Linked DNA regions of Homo sapiens: regions 2 and 3 are each linked to region 1. Evidence: fine-mapped expression QTL. A gene starts in region 1. Each other region holds a variant in brackets. All regions are shown on one strand. Distances are between the middles of the regions.

Evidence for each region. PIP is the estimated chance that this variant, and not a neighbour inherited with it, causes the effect.
Region 2: its variant is fine-mapped to the expression of LINC-PINT in whole blood (TOPMed, PIP above 0.99). The same link has a PIP of 0.9 or more in tibial nerve.
Region 3: its variant is fine-mapped to the expression of LINC-PINT in whole blood (TOPMed, PIP 0.99).

What each region holds. Positions count from the first base shown.
Region 1 is chr7:131,105,950-131,113,976 of GRCh38, reverse strand. LINC-PINT (long intergenic non-protein coding RNA, p53 induced transcript) reads left to right here and starts at 4,052. Exons shown (of 8, transcript NR_170176.1): 1 at 4,052-4,240; 2 at 5,174-6,257. It also overlaps a transcript of MKLN1 not described here. RefSeq lists silencers at 2,487-2,546, 3,697-3,846, 3,927-3,976, 6,034-6,093, 6,114-6,163 and 1 more and enhancers at 2,264-2,805, 5,200-6,051.
Region 2 is chr7:130,952,572-130,960,598 of GRCh38, reverse strand. All of the region lies in intron 5 of LINC-PINT (long intergenic non-protein coding RNA, p53 induced transcript), which reads left to right. Among named protein-coding and RNA genes, the nearest start is that of LINC00513, 43 kb to the right of the region's middle. RefSeq lists enhancers at 1-76, 1-602, 2,421-2,480 and a silencer at 3,282-3,331. The variant C/T (reference allele first, on the strand shown) is at 3,781.
Region 3 is chr7:130,861,815-130,869,841 of GRCh38, reverse strand. No RefSeq gene overlaps it. Among named protein-coding and RNA genes, the nearest start is that of MIR29A, 11 kb to the left of the region's middle. The variant A/G (reference allele first, on the strand shown) is at 3,789.

The DNA.
Region 1 (8,027 bases):
GGAGGTGACTGGATCATGGGGGCAGTTCCCTCCATGCTGTTCTCACGATAGTGAGGGAGTTCTCATGAGATCTGACGGTTTTAAAAGTGTCAGTTTCCCCCGCAAGCTCTCTCTCTCCTGCTGCCTTGTGAAGGTGGCTGCTTCCCCTTCGCCTTCCACCATGATTGTAGGTTTCCCCAGGCCGGAGCACAGTGGCATGATCTCTGCTCATTGCAACCTCCGCTTCTGTGGTTCAAGTGATCCTCCTGAGGAGCTGGGACTACAGGTGTGTGCCACCAGGCCTGGCTAATTTTTTTTTTTTTTTTTTTTGTATTTTTGTAGAGACAGGGGTTTCACCATGTTGCCCAGGCTGGTCTCAAACTCTTGAGCTCAAGCAATCTGCCCACCTCAACCTCCCAAACTGCTGGGATTACAGTAGTGTGCCACTGCACCCAGCTGAGAGATCTTTCTAAAATGAACATTTGATCAGTTCACTATGCCCCTTAAAATTCATCAGTGGTTCTCCACTGGCCTTAGAATAAGTTCAAACTTTTTAGGATAACATACTCAACCATGCTAATCTTTCTGGATTTCTCCTCCAGGACTTCTGCCATGCATTTATACAATGTATTTATTTAGAACCTACTTGCCAGGCTCTGTTCTTCACCCTCAACTCCCTGCACACAGCTTTTTCCCTAAGGTCTTTACACATAGTACTTTCTTTGCTTGGAATATCTTTCCCTGTAACCTGCCCACTTGTCTGGCTTACTTCTACTTATCCTTCAGAACGCATCTCAAGATTCACCTTGTGTGGTTAGAGACCCTATGCGTGGTCAGGGTTAGGCACCATTCTTATGAGCTCCCCTGTTGATATCATCTCACTGTTGCGTGATCAACTGTATATTCATCTTTGTTCTCATGATACTATAATGTCCTTCAGAGCAGAAACTGTGTCTTATTCATCTTTGTATTCCCAGCACCCAGCACAGTACCTGACACACAGCAAGCACTCAATAATGAATAAAGTGGCAGAGTTGGGTTTCAAAGTCAGGTCTTTTCTCTCTGGCACAAATCTCACATTTCTTCATGCTACTTCTCAATACTGTGAATTTGAAAAATTCCAAGAGCTGAGCTAGGTCTATTTTTGCCTAGCACTAATTAAAACACAGGCAAATAGATTATTATTAGTTCCATGAGGATTCAGTTGATTATTTTTTTGTACACCCCTTCCTCCATCATTCCACCACTTTGATCATCAGAGTACTTAGGATTACCTATATCTAAAATGACTGAAAGGCTAGGCATGGTTGAGTGCACCTGTAGCCCCAGCTACTCAGGAAGCTGAGGTGGGAGGCTTGCTTGAGCCCAGGAGTTGGAGGCCAGCCTGGGTAACACAGTGACACGTTGTCATAATAAATAAGTGAGTAGACTGAAAGAACTTTCTCTATACTTTTATATCCTTTTGTAACTCTTATCCTGTTGCTTCCATAATACCACTGAGGCAGGGAGAGACTAAGTACATGGGGAGCAAGGTAAATTTTATTTTTCTGTCAACAGACACTAAAAATGGATACATCAATAGAAAGTCATTTCCCATCATTTCCCTCAAGGTTCCTATGGATAGATATTAAAGGTTCAGTGCTTAAATTTAACATTGCAAAATCCAGCTAAAATTGAAATTTTTATGTAGTGAGTTCAATCTCATCACAGAAGTTTGTAAATGGGAGGAACCTTAGAAATCCTTTAGTCCAGCACTTTCATTTAAGCTTCCACGAAGAAACTGACATAAGACCTACAATGGCTCACTCAAGGTCATCCAGGCTATCGATGCCATTATACATCTTTTTCAAAGGGCTTCATTTTCCATCTAAACAAATTATCTACATCAGAATCCACCTATTTACATAGGGCTTATCTTTCTGATATTGCCTTTGCAATATCCTTGTTATAAAGAGGAAGGAACTGAAAACAAACAAAACAAAACAAGGTTGTCTTGTCCAGGGACATAGAGGAATTGGTAAAAAAGACAATTAGTACACAAAGTGATGGGGTTTCCTATTTGTAGTGTAGCCTTGTAGTCACACTGTGTTCTCCGAATGCCACAATGCTAACCCAAAATTACTTGTCCTTCCTGGGCCTGGATTCCATTCAATTTTATGCCTTGTTTAGTCTAAATGATTTCCCCAGCTTCGACATGTATTTATTTATTTATTTATTTATTTATTTATGCGTTTCATTTTAGAAGTATACTTAAATCTACTCTTTACTCGAGTTTGTCTTAGTTCTAGTGCTGAGGAATGAAGATTCTGGGTAAAAGAAATCAAGATGATGTTTTTTTTTTCTAGGCTTTACATTTCAAGGATTGTTTCTCAAATGGCAACTGGCAGTCTACTCCTCAAATGATGACGTTTTCCACAGGAATTACAATTTAATTGGAATATTTTGTTTTCAATGGGAAGCAAAGATTTCTTTCCAAGAGGATCAGTTTGATAATGTTTTACCAGCTAGTGCTACGAGACCAAATATAAACCAGTTCTGAGAAACAGGAAGTGAACTGACTGGTCTAGTCTGAGTGTCCCTGGCAGTGACGCAAATACAGAAATCAAATTAGGAAAACAAGATATGTGGGTGTGAGGCAATCGATAATAATCCAGGATGCTACAACATAAGCAAGAATGCCTTTAACCCGATGCCATTCATTTTAATAACACCCTGAGCAGTTTGATTTCCACGGAACACGCTGGTGATTAGAGAGCAGCAGGAGCTTGGGTTCCCTAGCAACAGCATGTGCTTTTGAGACAGTCATTAGCCTTTCAGTTAATCCCATCAACCCCTTACCTCTAAATGTATGACTGACATAAAAAAAATGATGTTTTAGAAAGTGCTTTGAAATTTCCAGGAGTGCAATGGAAGGGAATAATCATAATTAAAAAGTTGTCTGGAGAACTACACTCCAGTGAAGGAAGTAATGTTCCTACGTGCCAAGCCTGTCCGTATATTTCCCTGCTCTCAGTTGTAGGTTTCTGAATCCCCTGTGGCAAAGGGCAAGGGAGGTGAAATTGTTCAGAGTTTCAGGCAGTCTTCTCACCTAAAGTGAGTAGTATTGCAATGTCTCTTGGAATCATGGCTCTGAAGATGAGGAGAGAAGCGGGATGGGCAGTTTGTGTGGTGAGGAGGCTGGCTGCAGGTAGGCTGGGAGGGAATGTCACACATAGTTTTCTTTCTCCTTTAAGCCGAATGAGGTATGCTGGTCAAAGGAACTTGGGGAAGGAGGATGGTGAGGGGAATGAAGTTCTTCTTCCTATTGATTGTTTTGTTGCACCAGAGGCTGTTTGTCCAAGGCCACTGGCCAAGAGCATTATTTTCGTGGCTAAAGTGAGGTTGGGCAGGTTTCCCATCCCTTTCACTAGTTTTGAACAAGACAACCCAGAAAGCGCAGCAAGGCTCTGGGAATATGATGTGGGTTGGCTTTTCCTACTCAGCTGCACCTTAAAGCGCCAGGCCGATGGGCTGATACTTCTCAAACCCTGAATCATTGCCTCCAGCTCTGTCCTGGGTTCAGGATGCACCACTCCACCCTCTGTGTAGCTTGGGGTCAACTTCGGGGCGTCACTCCAATAGTAATTATTGCTGCGTTTGGCTGGACATCCTTATTACGGCCTGGGTCCCTCTCAGCTGGAAACTGGGCTCCTTCAGTTTGGCTGGGGTGACTTCTAGCACTTCCCGCCGCCCCACCTTACCCCCCTGCGCGCTCCCTTCCCAAGGCGACCACCTGCACCGCCCCACTTACCATCTGCCCCGCGGGGAGGGCCCCCCGGGCTAGCGGAGCCCTCCCTGCTCCCGGGCGGCTCTGGAGGAGCTCGGTGTTTGCCTCTAGCCCTTCGCTACCGGAGGATCAGGTTCCTCCCCTCCTCCCCCTCCAGCTCCGGCCGCCGCCGCCGCCGCCGCCGCCTCCTTCTTGCATGACACAGCAGAACCGCAGCTGCTGCAGCAATTTCAAGCCATCCGCCCAGGAAGCGCCGCAACCGGGACTCGGGAGGGGTGGAGGGGGCGAGGCAGAGGCCGCGGCCCCAGGGGATCCTTGGCCCCACTGTGCACCACACACTCCTTTCCCAGCCCAGGGGCACGCGAACAAAATGAGGCTCAAGCTGACCAGGCCGAGCCGGAGGAACGCTGGGGCTTGGCAGCAGAAGGGATGGGACCAGAGAGAAGGGTGTGGAGGAGACCCCAGTGAGGGCCAGGACATTTCAGGTAAAGAGAGGTAAGAAGAGGCCCAGAAGTCAAGGGCCAGACTGTGAAGGTGATTAGAGGTCAAAAGAGGTAAGGAGGTAGAGTTGCAAAGAAGAGAGGCCGAGCTGGGAAGGGCGTGGGGGTGGGGGTAGCTGCAGGGGAGGGTGGGGGGTACAGTCTTTGGGGAGGCCCGAGCTGAGCCCCCAGGCAGAAAAGGGGCTGAGTTGGGAGGCAAGGGAGGTAGGAGGAAAGGGATGAAAAGAATTAGGCATGAGATAGGAAGGTAAAACTTGGGAGAGATATTATAGAATTAGAAGGGTTGGAATGGAGCTCATTCATCATGGCTGATGAAGTAAACTGATGAGGTGGAGAGAGACAGAGTCAAGGCAAGGCCAAACGAAAAGATCTTCCATCCCACTCTTCAGTTTCTTGCGAAGTTTTTCTTGATTCCGCCAATCCACACAGTTTCCTTTATAAAATGGAAAAGCATGAACTAAAAAACCCAGAAATAGCTATCTGGCTTAGATTTACAGGATAAAATCTCCATGTCTGTAAAAACTTTAAGGCAGAAATTTGGGATTTATGGTACAAACCCTTTAAGGGACTGTGAGTCAGTAATACCCACAGCACTCAACATTGTGAGTTTCCACACATCCCTGGACTTGAGTGAGTCTTTCCAAGTGTTTGTTAATGGTACAAATGATGACAAAATTAGTGGTTCAAAAATATTAAAGTGCACATGCTTTTTGCTTTCTCTATGTATACAGAGATTACATATATGTATACTTTCTAGCGTCTAGCAAGTATGGTATGGCTAGGGATAATTATGTTTTTCTGATTATTTTGTTTCCCATCAAACACCCCACGAATTTTACAGCAGACCGCCTTCTTGTCACCATTTGAAAGAATGTGGTCAGAAAAGTAATGCAAAAACTGCCACTTTGGTTTTGTCTGTACCTTCCAGGTCATATCTCCGTACCTCACTTCCTGACACAAACAAGTTTTCACTGTTGTCAGCAACAAAGCCCTAATATAGCTGCGGAAGAGAAAAACTGCATTGCATTTTGCCTCCTGCAAGCATCATCAACAGTTACTGGAGGAACGTAATTCCAGAAAGCTTGAAAGCCGTGGTGATGGTAATTATGTATCAAATGCCTGGTTCTATTTCTGTTATTATTGTTTTGTCATTTCTGTTTTCCCAGCGATCTGACTGAACTCGCAGAGGGACAAATCCAGTTTTTCTTTTTGACTTTTGTCAAACTAAATCAGGCCTGATAGAAAACTCATTGCTCTCCGGGGAAACAAAGTAGGAGCCACGAAATGTCATTTTAACAGAGCGTGGGTTTGGTGACTGTAGGAAAGGATTTGAGGACGCTCCTTCTGTTCGGCTTCCTATGTCATGAGCACAGGCTCCACGCACGCACAGACACCACGGCTCCCGGATGCTGTGGCTCCCCGATCGGGGCTCCTGCAGCGCCAGAAGCCCCTCCGGGATGCTTCGAGGGGCTCCCGGTGGGTGGAGGTACGGACGCCGCTGCGGCCGCCGCCGCCAGTCCTGCTGCTGTTGTTGCTGCTGCAGTCACGTGGGAGCCCCTTTAAGTTTCCATAGAGAGGCCTCTCTGGTGTCACATGATGGACATGATATAATGAAACAACATTGTGGAGAGGAAAGCATTAGGGGAGCCCACGGCTACAAAAACAAGTGAGTGAGAAGAGGTGGGAGGAAGAGAAACTACGCCACCTCCCCTGCAGCCGAGTGCACGCAGCAGCCTGGCGTGACAAGTGGGCGACGCCGGGGGGCAGGGAGCCGGGGTCCTTGGCCCTGGCCGGGGACCCCACCGCCCACCGCGCGGAGGACAACTTTTAGCCGGCAGCCCAGACCAGCGCGGCACCTGTCTCCGGAGTCTCCACCGCTCCTCCCGATTCATCCCAGGGAAATTCTCAAGAATACGCTCTACAAATCTACGTGCGCATCATTTTCACCTCGCGTCGCGCCCGGGAGGAAGGAACGAGGCAAGGAGCTAAAGCAGCGTGCGTTCAGCCCTGGGGTAAGTTCGTCGGGTGGGGAAGCCGGTCCCGCAGGACTTTGGGATGGGAATTTTGCTCTCCTTTGCGATCTCAGGGCGTGAAGAAGGCGTCCCCTCCGCTGCCGGCGGAGCTGATCGGCTGGCTAGTCAATTTCCCCTTAGCACGCCCCGTGCGCCCACCCTCGCTCAGCCCGGGGCCCCCTCGCCGTCCCCCGGAAGGGGTCTGCGGTTCCTGGCCAGGACGTTCGGAAGGCGAGCGGGGGAAGGTAGGGCTGTCGCGGGAACCCGGCTTGTGAGAGCGATTTCGCCATGTTTGTGTTGCTAAGAGCACTTTTTCCCCTTTGCTGTGGCTTGATGCCACATGGCTCCTCCGGAGCTGCTGCCGGGCTGAGAGAGTGTTTTTTTTTTTTTTTCAATGTCCGCATTCCAGCTAATGTTGCGCAGATAAAATTCAAACTTGAGGTAAACAGAAGAAGAGGAGGAGGAGGAGGAGGAGGGGAGGGGGGAGGAAGGGGGGACTGTTTCCATTTCGAGATCCCACCTCTTCCCTCCGCGCAGCCCAACATCCCGAACCTAGAGACAACTCTTGCCTTTCTCCCACGTCCCCCACCTTTGCTGTCAACAAGAAATAAAGGCGGGGCGGGGGGGGGGGTTGGAGGTAGGGGGTGGCGTGCTTATTAATTAGAAAGGACGCGGTGTCTCGGTTCTCCACTGGAATCAGCAACTCCCTGGAACTCGGGCCTCTGGCCCCGTCCCTCTTTTCTCCGGCAGGGACGCAGGATGCCTTGGTGCACTCTAGAGACGGGGACCGGAGGGTGCAGCGCGCCTGGGTGGGGCGAAGGGCGCCGGTCTCCTCACGCCCTCTGACTTTAGGATACCAGACAGTGTCTCTTCAACCCCACCCCAGGCGCAGGTTTCCAGAAGGCGGGGTGGGTGGGGCCCCCGATTTCCAGAAGGCGAGTTACCTAGCAGGTGTGTGGGGTGGGCATTGCTATTCGGTAAGTCTGTTGCATGGGGTAGGATGACGTGGGGAGCTTAAAAGCTTTAAAGCCAGCGCAAAGGTAGAGCTGCGTCTGCTGTTTTTGTTTTTTTTTTTTTTTCCCTGTGTCTGTGGCAAATTAAGGAGAAAAATCAAGACGTTCCCTTCAGTCCTCCCTCGGTGTTAACGTCTGCTCCAGCTCGCAGCCCGCTGCTGGGTGAGTGGCGACATCAGGGCGAGGGTGAGCTTCGTCACGGGGAAAGCTGGAGGCTCCTGACAGCTCGTAGCCGTCCTCCCCTCGCCCCGCCCTAGGCGGAAGGTGTGGGTTGGGTGGTCCGAGGAGGGTGACGTCCAAGGTGGGGTGGGCACAGGCTCGGGATCCCTCGCAGCGCTAGGGGCCGCAGCCCCGGTCGCCGGGGAGTGCCATGGCAGGGAGGCGGCAGCCACGTGAGGGGTCTGCGGAAGCGCCGGAGCTGAAAGCTGGGGGCGAAGTGCGTAGCAGAGTCGTGACGGGGGTGACACGCAGCAGCCGGGGGCGGCGGGCCGCCGGAGCCGGGCGCCTCCCACGCAGGGCCGGCGTTCCCCGCCGCGGGTGGGTGCGCACTCGCCGGCCCTCTCCCGGGAGACCGTTTCCGGGAGCGGGCGCTGGCGGGGCGGGGCCGTGGCGGTAAACAGGGTGGTGCCCTCTGCCCTCCCGCCCCCGGCCTGCCGGGGCGCGCGGCCGGCGGTGCCCGGGGCGGTGGAGGCGCGGTCGCGGCGCCGGGCAGCGGGGGCGCGCCCGCTCTCTGCCGCCCCCGCGCGCGCCCGCCGCC
Region 2 (8,027 bases), 150 kb after region 1:
GCGCGGTGGCATTTTTCTTGAAGAAGTGACTAAGGCTTCTTGGATGAATTCTGTCTTTGAAAGAGGTAGTAGAATTGCATCAGAAAGGCATTTACAGTAAATGGCTACCCCCCCTTCCTGTAATGACCGCATGTGAAAGAATGCATTAATTCTTGTTTTGAGGAAATGAGAGTTGTAGAGTTCTATGAAAAACTCCCTTTTTTATCATTAGTTAGCCAGGTTTGAATGTTCACATTTTAAAAATCAGGCTCATTTTGTGCTATCTAAATAAAAGTCACAAAGATACAGCTTTCCACTCCATGTTCTATGTGGAGTAACCAATCATCCTGAACTCAAAAAGAGGAAATTATGTTGAATATGGCTACAGTTAATGGCATAAGCCTAAACTAAATTAATTTCTTCATAGTCTTTTTTTATATTAAGTTACTGTGCTTCCTAGCTATGTTGCTGATTTGTCCATCAGGATTTGATTCTCAGTGCGACGGACGATGAAGACTAAAAGGAAACTCCCATAGATGATCTGGTCAGGAGTTCTCATGGAAGCAGTACCGCCCCCTAGGTGACAGAGTGGAAATTTATGAGGGTATTCTGGTGGTACAATGAAGGATTTTTCTGGTTTTTTTTTGAGATGGAGTCTCACTCTGTTGCCCAGACTGGAATGCAGTGGTGTGATCTCAACTGACTGCAACCTCCGTATCCTGGGTTCAAGCAACTCTCCTGCTGCAGCCACGTGAGTAGCTGGGATTACAGGCCCAAGCCACCACACCCAGCTAATTTTTGTATTTTTGGTAGAGACGGGGCTTCCCCATGTTGGTCAGGCTGGTCTCAAACTCCTGACCTCAGGTGATCCGCCGGCCTCGGCCTCCCAAAGTGCTGGGATTACAGGCATGAGCCACCTCGCCCAGCCTAATGAAGGATATTTCATGAGTGAGAGCGAGAGAACTTAATGTCCCACAGTAGAAAAGAGATAAAGAATTGCCCTGTAGTACACATGACTTTCAGTTATCCTGTTGGACATTCGTGTAGGGAAAGATCAGTTTATAATTTTCTGAACCTAGACTTTATTTTTTCATAAAAATGCAAAATAATTTTTGCATACTTTTAATATACACAGAATAGATTCATTTTCATTCTCTGGTCCACCTATACTACTTCTTTCATTTTCCTGCACTTTTAATATGGAAAGCTTCTAATCTGACTTCTCTTAAATACAAGCTTCTTCTTTATAAGTAAGTTACAAGCATCTATTTGATTACATAGTTAATTGTACCTGAAAATTATTTATATAATGAAATGTGAAGTATTTTTTATTATAAATTGCTTCTTTTAGATTATCTTTTATGTACATTTAGGATATTCATGTTTTAAAGCTGCATGTACAGTAGTTAATATTATCAACAAATTTGATTTTAGAGTAGTAAATGGGACATGACAGAATTTTTTTGTCATATAAAGAGAGCTATGAGAATAATGGATAGGGTTTTGAACCAATGAACCAATCCGTGCCTCAGCGTTTAAGGAAGGAGGGTATGCAAATTACCCAGATAGGAGGGATGCTTATCTTCTTCATGAAGTTCCCCAGGGAAGATTTCACGTGTACCTCATTAATTTGTATTAGTATTTTGAAATCTTCATAGTAAGCTAGTTCTTCTGTATTAATATTTTCTAGGAGTCTTCATATGTCACTCTAAAAACATGACCGGGCCAGGTGCAGTGGCTCATGCCTGTAATCCGAGAACTTTGGGAGGCCGAGGCAGGTGGATCACTGAGGTCAGGAGTTCAAGACCAGCCTGGCCAACATGGTGAAACCCCGTTTCTACTAAAAATACAAAAATTAGCTGGGCATGGTGGCAGGTACCTGTAATCCCAGCTGCTCGGGAGGCTGAGGCGGGAGAATCACCTGAACCCGGGAGGCAGAGGTTGTAGTGAGCTGAGATCGTGCCATTGCACTACAGCCTAGGCGATAGAGCAAGACTCTGTCTCAAAACAAAACATGGCCAGGCACAGTGGCTCATGCCTGTAATCCCAGCATTTTGGGAGGCCATGGTGGGCGGATCACCTGAAGTCAGGAGTTCAAGACCAGCCTGGCCAACATAGTAAAACCTTGTCTCTACTAAAAATATAAAAATCAGCCGTGTGTGATGGCACACTCCTGTAATCCCAGCTACTCAGGAGGCTGAGGCAGGAGAATTGCATGAACCTGGGAGACAGAGGTTTCAGTGAGCCGAGATTGTACCACTGCACTCCAGCCTGGGTGACAGAGTGATACTCTGTCTCAAAAAAACAAAACGAAAACAAAAAAAACCTGTGACTTTTGGTTACTCCCCTTCTGTAGAAAAGATGAGCAGGTATTGAGAGAAGTAAACTGTAAACTTGCAGAGGAGTTAAAAACAGACTCAGGTTTTCTTGAACAGTGGACATGGTGGCACTGTCCCTTTGTCATGAACATAGTCCACATATGCCATTACAAACTGTTGACAGTACTGTAAAATATAACACATTCTAGGTAAGGTATTGTCTATATGGTAGATTAAATCAGAAATACAAAGGCTGGGTGTGGTGTTTCACGCCTGTAATCCCAACACTTTGGGAGTCTGAGGTGGGTGGAGCACTTGAGGTCAGGAGTTTGAGACCAGCCTGGCCAACATGGCAAAAACCCATTCCTACTAAAAATACAAAAGTTAGCTGCACGTGGTGGTGCACACCTGTAATCCCAGCTACTTGGGAGACTGAGAAAGGAAAATTGCTTGAACCTGGGAGGCAGAGGTTGCAGTGAGCTGAGATCACGCTACTGCACTCCAGCCTGGGCGACAGAATGAGACTGTGTCTCAGGAAAAAAAAAAGAAAAGAAAAAAAGGAAAAAAGAAGTACAAGTGTGAGGTTAAGTTACTCAAGCATGTGCACACATAGTGTTCCCTATTGTTATTTGAGGCTTGCATTTTTAATTTCATAGAGCTTTTTCTTGTAGTTCTTTTTTGTTGTTGTTGTTGTTGTTATGTTGATGTAATTCTCAAATATTTCCAGGAATACTAATAAATTGGGGGTTTTTTTTTAGTTTTTTTAGAAAAAAATCTTTTTCTTAAATATTCTGTTTCTTTTTTGTTATTGTTGTTTATCTTGGTTTTTCTCTTTCATGTTGCAGACTTTTAAAATATATATTTGATTTTCTTTTTAAAAATGAAGTGCCATTACGGCTGCCTAGAAGTTCTGCATGACAGCATCTGCCTCTAGCAGGCTTCAGCCTGGGTACACAGAGCCACCCTGAGCCCTCTTGCTGGGGAACTGCTAGATGTCAGAATGAGGAGGGCTTGACTGTGGGGTTCTCTTAACCACACTAGCTATTTAGTCTTCACCAGACGTTTGTTTAATTTTTTTTAGAAAATTATCTCCCTTTTCTTATTTTTGCTCTGAAGTGGGGAAGCTATAAGGTTTTTTTTTATAAAGACAGGAAGTAGTCATGAAAAGAATAATTGTTATTTCCAGACTTTTCAATTACTCTTCTCCTTTCTACCTTTCTTGTCACTTCTGTCACAGTTCTTACTTTTCCTGAGTCTGGAGCCTGTTTGGGGTCCATCTGAATAAAATCAACTCTTCACTGCCTTGGCAGTACCCGCTCAGAACTCTCCGGGCTGTAAGCTGCCTCTGCTCAGCTTCATCGCTCAGTGCTCTCCCCACATCCTTCTGGCTTCCTGACATTTGGTGAAATCTCTCAGGCCCCTGAAACTTGTTGTTGTTGTGGGTCTACATACCCCTTTTATAACCGTAGTGGGGTCTTCCAGG[C/T]GCCCTGACCGCCATCATGAAAGGAGAAGTACTTTCATTTGTTGATTTGTCAGAAATATATCTGAACAAGTAAATTGGAAATACCTTTAGTCAGGCATTTAGCCAGGAAAAAGATTAGATGGAGCATGATGACTGCAGTGGGTACTGGGGCTTGGGAAAACAAACCCTCACAATTACTGGATTGGGAGGAAACAGTGGGCTGACACTATTATACAAAGATACACTTTCCAGCCAGTAAAGACATAGCCATTAATCATAGAGCCCCATAAGAGGATCTTTTAGCTTTGTTGCTAGAAGAAAGTTGCATCTTGTAAAACATCCAACTTAGTCATTTAAAAAAATCTTTAAGTAGTGGTACTTGTTCCTGATCTTAATACAAATTAAATGTGGATACGCTTGCTTGATTTCTTCCCTGCCCTTTAGCATAAGAGCTTCTGAGAGAATTTCCTATTCTTCCCTTCTGTACTATTTATTTCTTGGGCTATAGACCCTCATACTCCCTCTTCTTTTCCTTATAAGAAGCAATTCACATTCTCTTTTCCCATCTCCTTTGTGGAAAAAATCTCCAAACCCTTGTTAATTATCCCTTTGTCATGTTCGTCAGGTCGGTCCTGAAAGTGTCAGCAGACACTGTGAAGATGGGAAAAGTAAGATGTTGACTAGTTCTTTAACTTTTGTGACACAAGTGGTGTCCGTTTGTGTCAGAAGAAAGCCTGAATTGATGTTTCCATCTCATGCTTCCCTCCTTTTACTTAGAAAGCAGTTTCTTTGTGAAAAATCCCTGGAGATCTTTCTCAGAGGTATTCCACAGTTAGGGCCAATTACTGCAACATGATGGAAGCTTTAGGTTCTTCTCAGGCCTAGCCTCATTTCTAGCACAATACTAGGAGGCTAAAATCTATCTCTAAAATTTGCAAAGTAATAGTGATGGATGTTAGCTATTTTTAATGTAGCTGCTTAGAGACAGTTGAAGATAGTAAGGGTCATAAGGGCCTTCTCCTATCTGACCTCTGTACCCCTGTAAGTTGTTTACCAGCTTAGAGCCTCCTGTACAGTTCTAGATCAAAGAGCAAGTCCTCTGAGGCCATGCCCTTGGAAGCAGAGATGGAGAGTAGTGAAATCTACTTAGCTCTGAGGGTGTGAGCTCCCAGGCAAGCAGAACACACTTGGGATTTTATTCCTGGTATTGACCAGAACATCTATCATCAGCCTATGCCAAACACCCCCTTTCCACACCTTGTTTCTCCCACCTATTTCGCATAACTTCCTAGAGATGAAGAATGTTTCTGAGTGTGGATTGTCAGATGTCTGCTGAAAAATGGTGGGCCTAAAAAAAACATTCTGTGACTGCAAGAATGTAGAACACTCCCACACTGGTTCTGGGACCTGGCCTATTGGTTGGCTATTACTGTTGAATGAGAGGAGAACCAGCAAATTCTTTCTTTTCCTCTGGAGGAAATACCTTGTATGGATGGTCCCCCAGAGAAGAGAGAGCCATGGCTAGTTGTGAACTGAAGTAATCCAGATACAGGCACCATTTGATGGGATCTAAGTGTGCGAATCAAATTGCATTCTTCAGGAGGACATGGGGATGTCAAGACAATTAAGGAAATCCTACCATCCCTCCATTTTAATTGATGTAAAATTTACATGCATTGAAATGCACAGACATTCAGTGTACTCCTGTTCCCAGACCCCAGTTAAGAGAGAGAACGTTTCTATCACCAGGTTTCCTCTTGCCCCATTCAGTCATTCGCCACCCTCACTGGCAAAAACTTTCTGCTTTCTATCATTGCAGTCTTGTTCTTGAGCTTCCTCTAAATGGAATCATGCAGTATATACTCTTTTGCGTCTGGCTTTTTTTTTCACGCAACAGTTTTATATAGTTGTCTGTATCATTCTTCCTTTATTGCTGGGTGGTATTCCATTGTATGAATAGACCCAATTTTAAACTCTGTTCTCTTGTTGACTGACATATTGATTATTTCCCCATTTTTGGCTACTATGAATATTAAGCTGCTGTGAATGAGTTTTCTCTCACTCTCACTCTTTTTCTTTTCTTTCTTTTTTTATTTTTTATTTTGAGACAGTCCCACTGTGTCACCCAGGCTGAGCTGCAGTGGGGCAATCTCAGCTCACTGCAACCTCTACCTCCCAGGCTTAAGCGATTCTCCTGCCTCAGCCTTCTGAGTAGCTGGGACTACAGGCACGCACCACCACACCTGGCTAATTTTTAAAATTTTAGTAGAGATGGGCTTTCACCATGTTGGCCAGGCTAGTCTCAAACTCCTGACCTCAAATGATCCACCAGCCTCGGCCTCTCAAAGTGCTGGGATTACAGGCGTGAGCCACCACACCTGGCCCACTCTCACTCTTTTTTAGGTTTAATTGCTGCACCGTACACTAGGTGTATGTGTACCTCTGTAAGAAACTGCCAAGTCATTTTCCAAAGTAATCGTACCATTTTACACTCCAACAAGCAATTTATGAAAGTTCCAGGTGACCAGGTATCTTAACATTGTATATTGCTGGTTTTTCTACTTATAGTCGTTCTCTTGGATATGAAGTAGTATCTCATTGTAGTTTTCAATTTGCATTTTCTAGATGAATCACATATACTTATTGGCCATTTGTGTATCTTCCCTTTTGAAGTGTCTGTTCAAGTCGTTTGAGTCTGTTTTTCTTTTGCCTGTTTTAAAATTGGATTGTCTTATTATTTTGGTTGGTAGGAATGTTATACATATTCTGAATAAAATATTCTTGTCAGAAGTTTATAATGCAAATATTTTGCCAGTCTATGGTCTACCTGCTGTTTTTTAAAAGTGTCTTTTGATGAGCAGAAGGTTTTAACTTTGAAATAATTTCATTGATCAAAAATGTTTTTCCTTTGCGAGGCCAAGGCAGGGGAAGATCGCTTGAGCCCAGGAGTTTGAGAGCAGCTTAGGTAACATAGCAAGACCTCAACTCTCTACAAAAAAATAAAATATATTTTTAAAAATTAAAACAAAGATTTCTATATTATCTGTATTTTTTGTTTCCTAAGTAATCTGCCTCCCCAGGATTGTGCAGATATTTCTCTGTGCCTTCTGTTAGAAGACTTATAGCTTTAGCTTTTATGCTTTAGTTTATGATCTATCTCCAGTTGATTTTTATATATGGGGTTAAGTAGAAGTCAAGGTTCATATTTTTGCATACATTTTCCCAGTTGTTCTAACATGGATTGTTGGAAAGACTTTCCTTTTTCCATTGAATTGCTTTGGCGCCTTTCTTGAAAATCAGTTTTCCATATATGTGTGGGTCTATTTCAAAGGAACTTAAAGAATGTTTATATAGACCACATGCGGCATGTACTCAAGTCTAGGAAATAACAGTTCACATTGGTCAACCCTCAAGTGACTGGCATACTCTTTAACTTCTATATCGTGAAACATTTATGTCAAAGATCACTGATAGAAGCTGTATGTGGTGGGAGGCATTTTTTGCTTGTTTTTTGAAGCTAACCCTGCTGAAGCCTCCAGAAGTTCCAACATTCCCATGTTAAATGTGATGTTCTTATCTGCACAGAAATAGACCATAAAAAGTGAGATCTAGCCTGAGCCTGCAGGCGACTTCAAGAAGAACAAAATTAACTTCACTTTTCTTATCTGAAAACTTGGATATGTGTGGATTCAAAAATGAGTGATTTGGAACTTATTATAATGAAATGTGGGCCAGACAAAAAATAAATACTCTTAAGAAAGATGTTTTTCATAATGTAAAGATGCTTGTAAAGGAAAAAATTGTTTTAATAACAAGTATATTGTATGCAAAAGTAGATCTGATTTTAAAGAAGCCTTGTCTATGAGTAGAATCTCTACTTGGAAAGGTTTTTGTAAACGGTTTGGTTGAGCATATTTATTTGAATATAGAACTTTCTTTCTTTTAAAAGATTCCTTGATTTGGAAACCAAAGGCTGAATAGAGTAGGAAATGCACCCAAATTATTCTGTTAGAAAGGTACAGTAAATGGTGATGCTCTCTTTTGATACCCTAAATTTTAGGACTTTGAATTTGGTGCTTTCATGGTGTGGTGGTATAGGGAAGTGATTAGCGCGGGACTCTGAGGCTGGGCTGCCTGGATTGGAATACCAGCTCTGCCACTGAACACCGGCGAAGGAATCGACGTTCTTGTCTCTCTCCCTAAATGGGGAGAATAAGAGTACGTGCCTCATGGTTTGGGTTAAAGTATACAAAAGGCTTAGAGCTGTG
Region 3 (8,027 bases), 240 kb after region 1:
TCTGTCAGTGTAATATATATCCATAAACAAGTAAGAGGGCACTGAGTCCCAGAGCAAACAAACAGCTGTTCTCTGTCCTACTGTTTTCTCTCGCAGGCAGCTGCTTTCAAATCATTTATCTGTTTCTTCTGATAAGAGATTCTATAGACTGTTACTTCCATTTTAAAATGCTCATACCTCTATGTCTTCATTTTGACTTTATTTTTTTAATTTTTTTAATTTTTCTACTATGGGAAATGAGAATTTAGCTTTAACTCCACTGCCACCTGTACACATATTACTCCATTCGCCTTCACAATTTAGTTAGAACACAGTTTTCGGTTAACTCAAGAATGGTATTGATAATTATATAGATACTGTTGATATCATAACTACATAGTTTTAGATTTCCTTTTAAAACTTCTTATAAACTCTGAGATGAATAATTTCATCATTTTAAATTTAATTCATGATATACTTAATTCCTAAACCTTACAGAACTGTAACATTCCCCTCAGCATTTTCAGACCCCACACACAGTCAGTGTGTGTGTGCGCACACACAGTCAGTGTGTGTGCGCACACACAGTCAGTGTGTGTGTGTGTGCGCGCGCGCACACGCACACATCCTTCAGCAGTTTCCTGACAAAGGTCATTTTTTTTTAGGTTTTTCATTTTGCCCATATTTTATTGATCATTTCACTGGTTATGGAATTCCTGACTGGCTCAGATTTTGGTTTTCTAGCCCCCAGTGCTGTGAAGAGGTCTGATACAATGCTGATTTCTGGCCCTTTTGCTCTGGAAGTTTTGAGGAGATTCTGTTTATCCTTTGTGTCCTTTAAATTTCCTGAGTTTGTGCCATAATAGAGGTCTTTTTCATTTAATATACCTTTTTTTTTTTCTTTTTCTTTTTTTTTTTTTTTTTTGACAGGGTCTCACCTCACTCCCATCGCCCAGGCTGGAGTGCAGTGGTGTGATCACAGCTCACTCCAGCCTCGACTTCCCAGGCTCAGGTGATCCTCTCACCACAGCCTCCCAAGTGGGTGGGACTACAGGTGTGCACCACCATGCCCAGCTAGTTTTTTGTATTTTTAGTATTTACCTCCATTCTACAGCTGTTAAAACAGAGGCATCAGAAGGAAGAACAGCTTTCCTTGGTCAGTGAGGATGGGAAGAAGCTCTAGTGTTTCCTCTCCTCCATTCCTTCTGGGTATAATGGCCACCCATTGCAGTGGGCTTTGATTTTTTTCCAAGAATGGAGCTTGGAACCCCATAGAAATTGTGTTTTGTTAATAAGCTGACGGAAGGATTTTTGGCATCGATTTTAAATTCCCATAGTCTGCTTCTAGCGAAGCTCCACACCTCTCATTTACTCTCTCTCTCCTCTTCAGGGGCCAAAGAACAAAGTGTAGTCAACTGTTTTGAAGCCACCCTGTTTTGAAGAGGCGTTTTCCACTCAGGTGGCCTTGCACCGAATGGCCAACCCTGCCCACTGTACGGAAACAATAGATGCTGCCTTAGAAGGGAGCAAGCTGGCACTGCCCTGGTATGTGGGTGCGGCCAGGAAGCTTTGGGCCAAACTGTGCAGACTTGCTGTCTCAGGATTAGCACTTTCTACAGCCAGAGTGGAGACGAAGGGCAGGAGGCACACAGCCCTTCCTCCTGGAGATGAAAGGGGTCTGTAGGTGGATGAGGACCTTGTTCACCAAAAGTCACAGGAGGAAGTCAAAGAGGAGGAGGATAGAAACATAGTGGTGCTTCTATCACCTATAAATTCTGCATTCATGAAAAAAAAAGTCCACAAAATTATGGCCCTGAACCAATCTGTATCAACCCTGAACATGCTGGATGCCACCCACTGTGGGTTGGGCAGAAGATGGTGCAGGCCTGACAGAAGTTGGTAACCAATACTGTGCCAGAGGCTTGGTGTGGCAGGAGGTGACAGGACAAAGGTACCAGAGGATGCCAGCTGGGTGTCAGCCTTCTTAGCTGTCAGAACTGGTCTTGGAAAAAAGGACAGCCGTTGGGTATGCTTTTGTAAGAGGCATTTTTGCTCTTGCAGATAGCTGCCTCTCTCTTCCTTCCTGTGACTGAACAGGCCAGAGAGGAAGGTCAAAGGCAGGCAAGAGAACAAGGACAAAGGCACAAAGTGTGGATTGTACATGGACTCCTGTTCTAATCCAGCTCACTTACCAGCTTTCTATGTCAAAAAACAAAAAATTAGAAACTTGGATGGGAAAGAGGCTGGCACAAATGTAAATTATGAACTGAGTTCCAAAGGAAAAGAGGCAACAGATAAGAGATTCTTGTGGGTACCTTACCTGCGAATTACTTTGAAATGGCCTTGGAAGGGTCCTGATGGGCATGGAAAAAAAAAACCCACTAGCCCCATTTTCCCAATATAGAAGCGAAGGTCAATAGCAGTACCTCGAAATGTCTGGGAAGTGAAAGTGACAGAGAAAAAGAGGACTTGTGGACATATGTGTTGGCCTTTTTTATCTGAAGGTGCTATGGCTGGTGAAGATGGGCTGCGTTCTGGGTCCCTGGGAGAGCTGATCCTGAGCTCATGTCTCTGTCCCAGCAGCAGGAGCCCCTCAGTGCTATAGAATGTGAGGTCTGCTGTGAGTCCAAAAGACCAGACATGTGACACATTCCTCTGCTTTCTGGAGCATAGTATCAGCCCTTAGAAGCAGCTGTTCACCTCTCCTTTAGTAGCTCAGCAAGAATTCAGTTCAGTAAAAATTTATTTAGCACCTACCCTGCTCCAGGTACTCTCTAGGCACTGAGAGGGGTTTTCCTGTACTGTGCCCAGAACTCTGCTCCTCAGGCCTTTCTCAGCTCAGGATACTGGCTTAAGCAGCTAAACTGATCGCAAGTGCCACCCTTCCATGCTGCTAAAAACCCATGCTGTTCTCCTAGACAAAGTTAATGTCTGGCTCAACATACCACACCTTCTCTCTTAAGTCCTTAAGTTCTGAGAAAGGGATCCCAGGAGGTATGCAGGACTCTTGATGTTGAATGAGAGGCAAGACCCTCCACTCCTGTTGCTCGACCCTCTCCCAGGTCCCCTAGAGGAAAGGCTCATCCTGTGGCTTCTCCCTCCTAAACCAATCCCTGTGCATCCCTTTCTTTGTTTGTGCCACGTCCACACACTAATCTCTCTGCCTTGTGTTGGCAGATGCTGGTGGGATGGAGCTGCAGTTTGTGTCTCTGAAGCAGATTAAACACTGTCTGCCCCAGCCTGTCTTAACTATCTTCTCACTGGTTAACAGTCCTTGGAAGAATAAACAATCCACACAAGCTCTCAGAAAGCAGAAGTTCCATGATTCGTGACCAGAGTCTCATAGCACAGAATTCATCTCTAAAAACAGGTTTGTAGCTGACCAGACTCCACCAACTCAGATATGTCCACCCCTAACTTGAAATGAAAGGTGAGGGGAAGGTCGAGCTCAGAGCTCAGTACTCTAAGGACTGCCTCTGGTCAGGTTCCAGATCAGAACAGACCACTGTCCTGTCACTATTGGTCTAACACATGGGATCTCTGGTAACACACATAGTACATTCTACTTTGCATCACCCACATGCACGTTTTTCTCACCAAATAGACTGTAAACTTCTTGATTCAGGGTCCATATTCCTAGCATATGCCTAGCATAATATAGGTACTCTCTGTGTTCAATCACATTAGCATGGAAAGTACTATTCCCTGCAGATTCTGTGGGATTATGGAGGATCAGCCTATGACAGAGCTTTATATAAACCCACATTTGCTGAATGTCAGCAATGAAGCAGCCCACTGCTGCTGACTCC[A/G]GTGAAGTCAGCAAAACCCACACTGAGCAGAAGCCCTTGTGGTTGTCTTAGGAACTGTGACATACCTCTTATCATTCGCCATAAATGGCAAAAATATTGTGCTTGGCCTGCCTTGAGTTTACTTTGGGGCCAGGTTGTTTTCTGACAATTCAAAGAACTACTCCTATGTAGATGGCGTTCAGGAAATGGGAGCATCCGAATCTATAAATTTTAGCCAGAAATTTCCGCTATATTTTATACCTCAAAAGGAGCTCAAGGGAGCAGATAAGGTTGGTAGAAGTACAGAAGGGGGGTGGGGGTGCTGCACTTCCCCATATCACTTCTAGCACATCTCACAACTAAGAGTTTGAATCTACTACCTTTGTAGGAGTTCAATTTTCAAGTTCAGAGGATTCAGCACCATGGTCAGAGCCAATGACATAACAAATGTGAACCTGAAGGAAACCCTCTCTGTAGGAGGAAAACAAAGGGAGTCTTTCAGAGAAGTATTCTCTGTCTTCCCCCACTCTGATAACCTCTAAGCCAATGCTTAGGTTAGCCAGAGGAAAAAAACCAACTCCCAACTCCATGTTATGACAGGCCCCTTCTGTCTTCAAGTGTTGCCTGAACTAGGAACCATAGGTCTCAATCTGAATTTATCCCATTGTCTTTCTCACTTTGGCAGTAAGTTATGTCTTCTTTTTTGGTGATTTTTTTTTAGAGACAGAGTCTTGCTCTGGCACCCAGATTGGAGTACAGCGGTGCAACCACGACTCACTGCAGCCTTGACCTCCCAGCCTCAGATGATCCTCCCACCTCAGTCTCCCAAGTAGTCAGGACTACAGGTGTGCACCACCACACCTGGATAATTATTTTTTAAAACTTTTGTAGAGATGGAGTCTTACTATGTTGCCCAGGCTGGTCTCAACTCCTGGGCTCAAGCAATCACCCTGCCTTGGCCTCCCAAAGTGCTGGGATTACAGGCATAAGCCACCATGCCTGCCCCCTCCTTTTTTTTTTTGTATTTTTAATTTATGTATCATAGTTGTACATATTTTTGGGGTATGTGTGATATTTTGATATATGTATACAATGTGTAATGATCAAATCAGGTTAATTGGGATATGTGTCATCTTAAATACTTACCTTTTTGTGTTGGGAACATTACAGTTCTTCTAGCTATTTTGAAACATACAATAAATTATTGTTAACTATGATTTTCTTACTGTACTGTTGAATACTAGAACTTCTTCCTTCTAATTTTATTTCTGTACCCATTAACCAACTTCTCTTCATTCCCCCTGCCCCCACTCCGTACCTCTCCTCTGATAAACACCATTCTACTCTCCACTACTGGCCACTTCCATGAGATCCACTTTTTAAACTCACACACATAAATGAAAATATGTGACATTGGTGCTCAATAACATGTAGTTCCATCCATGTTGCTACAAATGACAGGATTTCATTATGTTTGTGGTGAAAAAATATTTCACTGTGAATATATACCACATTTTCTTTATCCATTCATCTGTTGATGGACACAGGTTGATTCCATAATCTTGGCTATTGTGAATAGTTCTACAGTAAACATTGGAGTGCAGATACCTCTTCGATATATTGACTTCTTTTGGATATACACCCAGCAGTGAGATTCCTGGATCATATGGTAGTTTTATTTTTAGTTTATTGAGAAGCCTCCATACTGTTTTCATAGTGGCTATTGTACTTACATTCCCACCAACACTATACCAGGGTTCCTCTTTCTCTGCATCCTTGCCAGCATTTGTTATTTTTTTCTCTTTTTGATAATAGATTTCTAACTGAAGTGAGTTGATAACTCATTGTGGTTTTGATTTGCATTTCCCTGATGATTAGTGATGTTGAGCATTTTGTAATCTACCTGTGGCCATTTGTATGTCTTGAGAAATTTTTACCCAGCTCTTTTGCCCATTAAAAAAAAATCAGATTGTTATTTTGCTATTGAATTGTTTACATTTCTTACATATTCTATGTATTAATTCATTGTTAGATGGATAGTTTGCAGATATGTTCTTCCATTCTGAAGGCTGTCTCTACACTTTGTTCCTTCCTTTGCTGTCTAGAAGCTTCTTAGCTTGATGTAATCCCATTTTTCTATTTTTTGCTTTGACTTCCTATTCTTTTGCGGTCCTACCCTAAAAAATCTTTGCCCAAACCAATGTCCTGTAGCATTTCTTCAGTGTTTTGTTCTAGCAGATTCATAGTTTTAGGTCTTACATTTAAGTCTTGAATTCATTTTGAGTTGATACTTGTATATGATGAAAGATGGGGATCCGGTTTTATTTTTCTGCAAACAGATATACAGTTTTCCCAGCACCATTTATTAAGGAGACTCTTTTCCCCCCCAGTATGTGTTCTTAGTGCCTTTGTTGAAAATGAGTTGGCTCTAAGTACAAAGACTTATTTCTGAGTTCTTCATTCTGTTCCATTGGTCTATGTGTCTGTTTTTATACCAGTACTATGCTTTTTTGGCTACTATACCTCTGTAGTTTAATTTGTTTGTTTTCTGAGACAGGGTCTCTCTCTGCTGCCCAGGCTGGAGTGCAGTGATGCAATCTCGACTCACTGAAACCTCCGCCTCCCAGGTTCAAGTGATTCTCCTGCCTCAGCCTCCCAAGTAGCTGGGATTACAGGTACCCGCGACCATGCCCAGCTAATTTTTGTATTTTCAGTAGAGACGGGGTTTCGCCATGTTGACCAGACTGGTCTCGAACTCCTGGCTTCAAACAATCTACCCACCTCAGCCTCCCAAAGTGCTGGGACTAGAAGCATGAGCCACTGCATCTGGCCTGTAGTATAATTTGAAGTCAGATAATGTGATGCTTCCAGCTTTGTTCATTTTGTTCAGGATTGCTTTGGCTATTTGGGGTCTTTCGTGTTTTCATATAAATTTTAGGATTTTTTTTTTCTATTTCTGTGAAGAACTGTCATTGGTATTTTTATAGGAATTGCATCAAATCTGTAGATTGCTTTGGGTAGTATTGTCATTTTAACAATATTAATTCTTCTGAAAAGTGAGCATGGGATGTCTTGCCCTTTTTATCCTCTTCAATTTCTTTAATCAATGTTTTGTAGTTTTCCTTGTAGAAGTCTTCCACCTCCTAAATTTATTCCTAGGCATTTTATTTGTAGATGTTGTAAGATTGCTTTGTTGGTTTCTTTTTCAGATTGTTGGCTGCTGGCATATAGAAATTTTACTGATTTTTGTATGTTGATCTTATATCCTGTAACTTTGCTGAATCTGTCACTTCTAATAGGTTTTTTTGGTGGACTCTTTAGGTTTTTCTAAATATAAGATCGCGTTGTTTGCAAACAAGGATAAGTCAACTTCTTCCTTTCCAATTTGCATGCCCTTTATTTCTTTCTCTTGACTAATTGCTTTGGCTAGTACTATGTTGAATAAAAGTGGTGAAAGTGGGCATCCTTGTCTTATTCTAGTTCTTAATGCAAAGGCTTTCCATTTTTTCCCATTTAATATTAGCTGTAGGATTCTCACATGTGGCCCTTATCACACTGAGGTATGTTCTTTCTTTCTTTTTTTTTTTTTTTTTTTTTTGAGATGGAGTCTTGCTCTGCTGCCCAGGCTGGAAGTGCAGTGGTGTGATCTCAGGTCACTGCAACCTCCACCTCCCAGGTTCAAGCAATTCTCCTGCCTCAGCCTCCCAAGTATCTGGGACTACAGATGTGTACCACCATCCCTTGCTCTTTTTTTGTATTGTTTTAGCAGAGACGAGTTGTATTAGGGTTCTCTTTTACTGTATTAGTTCGTTTTCATGCTGCTGATAAAGATACCCAAAATTGGGAACAAAAAGAGATTTAATTGGACTTACAGTTCCACATGGCTGGGGAAGCCTCAGAATCATGGCAGGAGGCAAAAGGCACTTCTTACACGGCAGTGACAAGAGAAAACTGAGGAAGAAGCAAAAATAGAAACCCCTGATAAACCCATCAGATCTCATGAGACTTATTCACTATCACAAGAATAGCATGGGAAAGACCAGCCCCCATGATTCAGTTACCTCCCACTGGGTCCCTCCCACAACATATGAGAATTCTGGGAGATACAATTCAAGTTGAGATTTGGGTGGGGACACAGCCAAACCACATCATTCTGCCTCTGGCTCCTCCAAATCTCATGTCCTCACGTTTCAAAACCAATCATGCCTTCCCAACAGTCCCCCAAAGTCTTAACTCATTTCAGCATTAACCCAAAAGTCC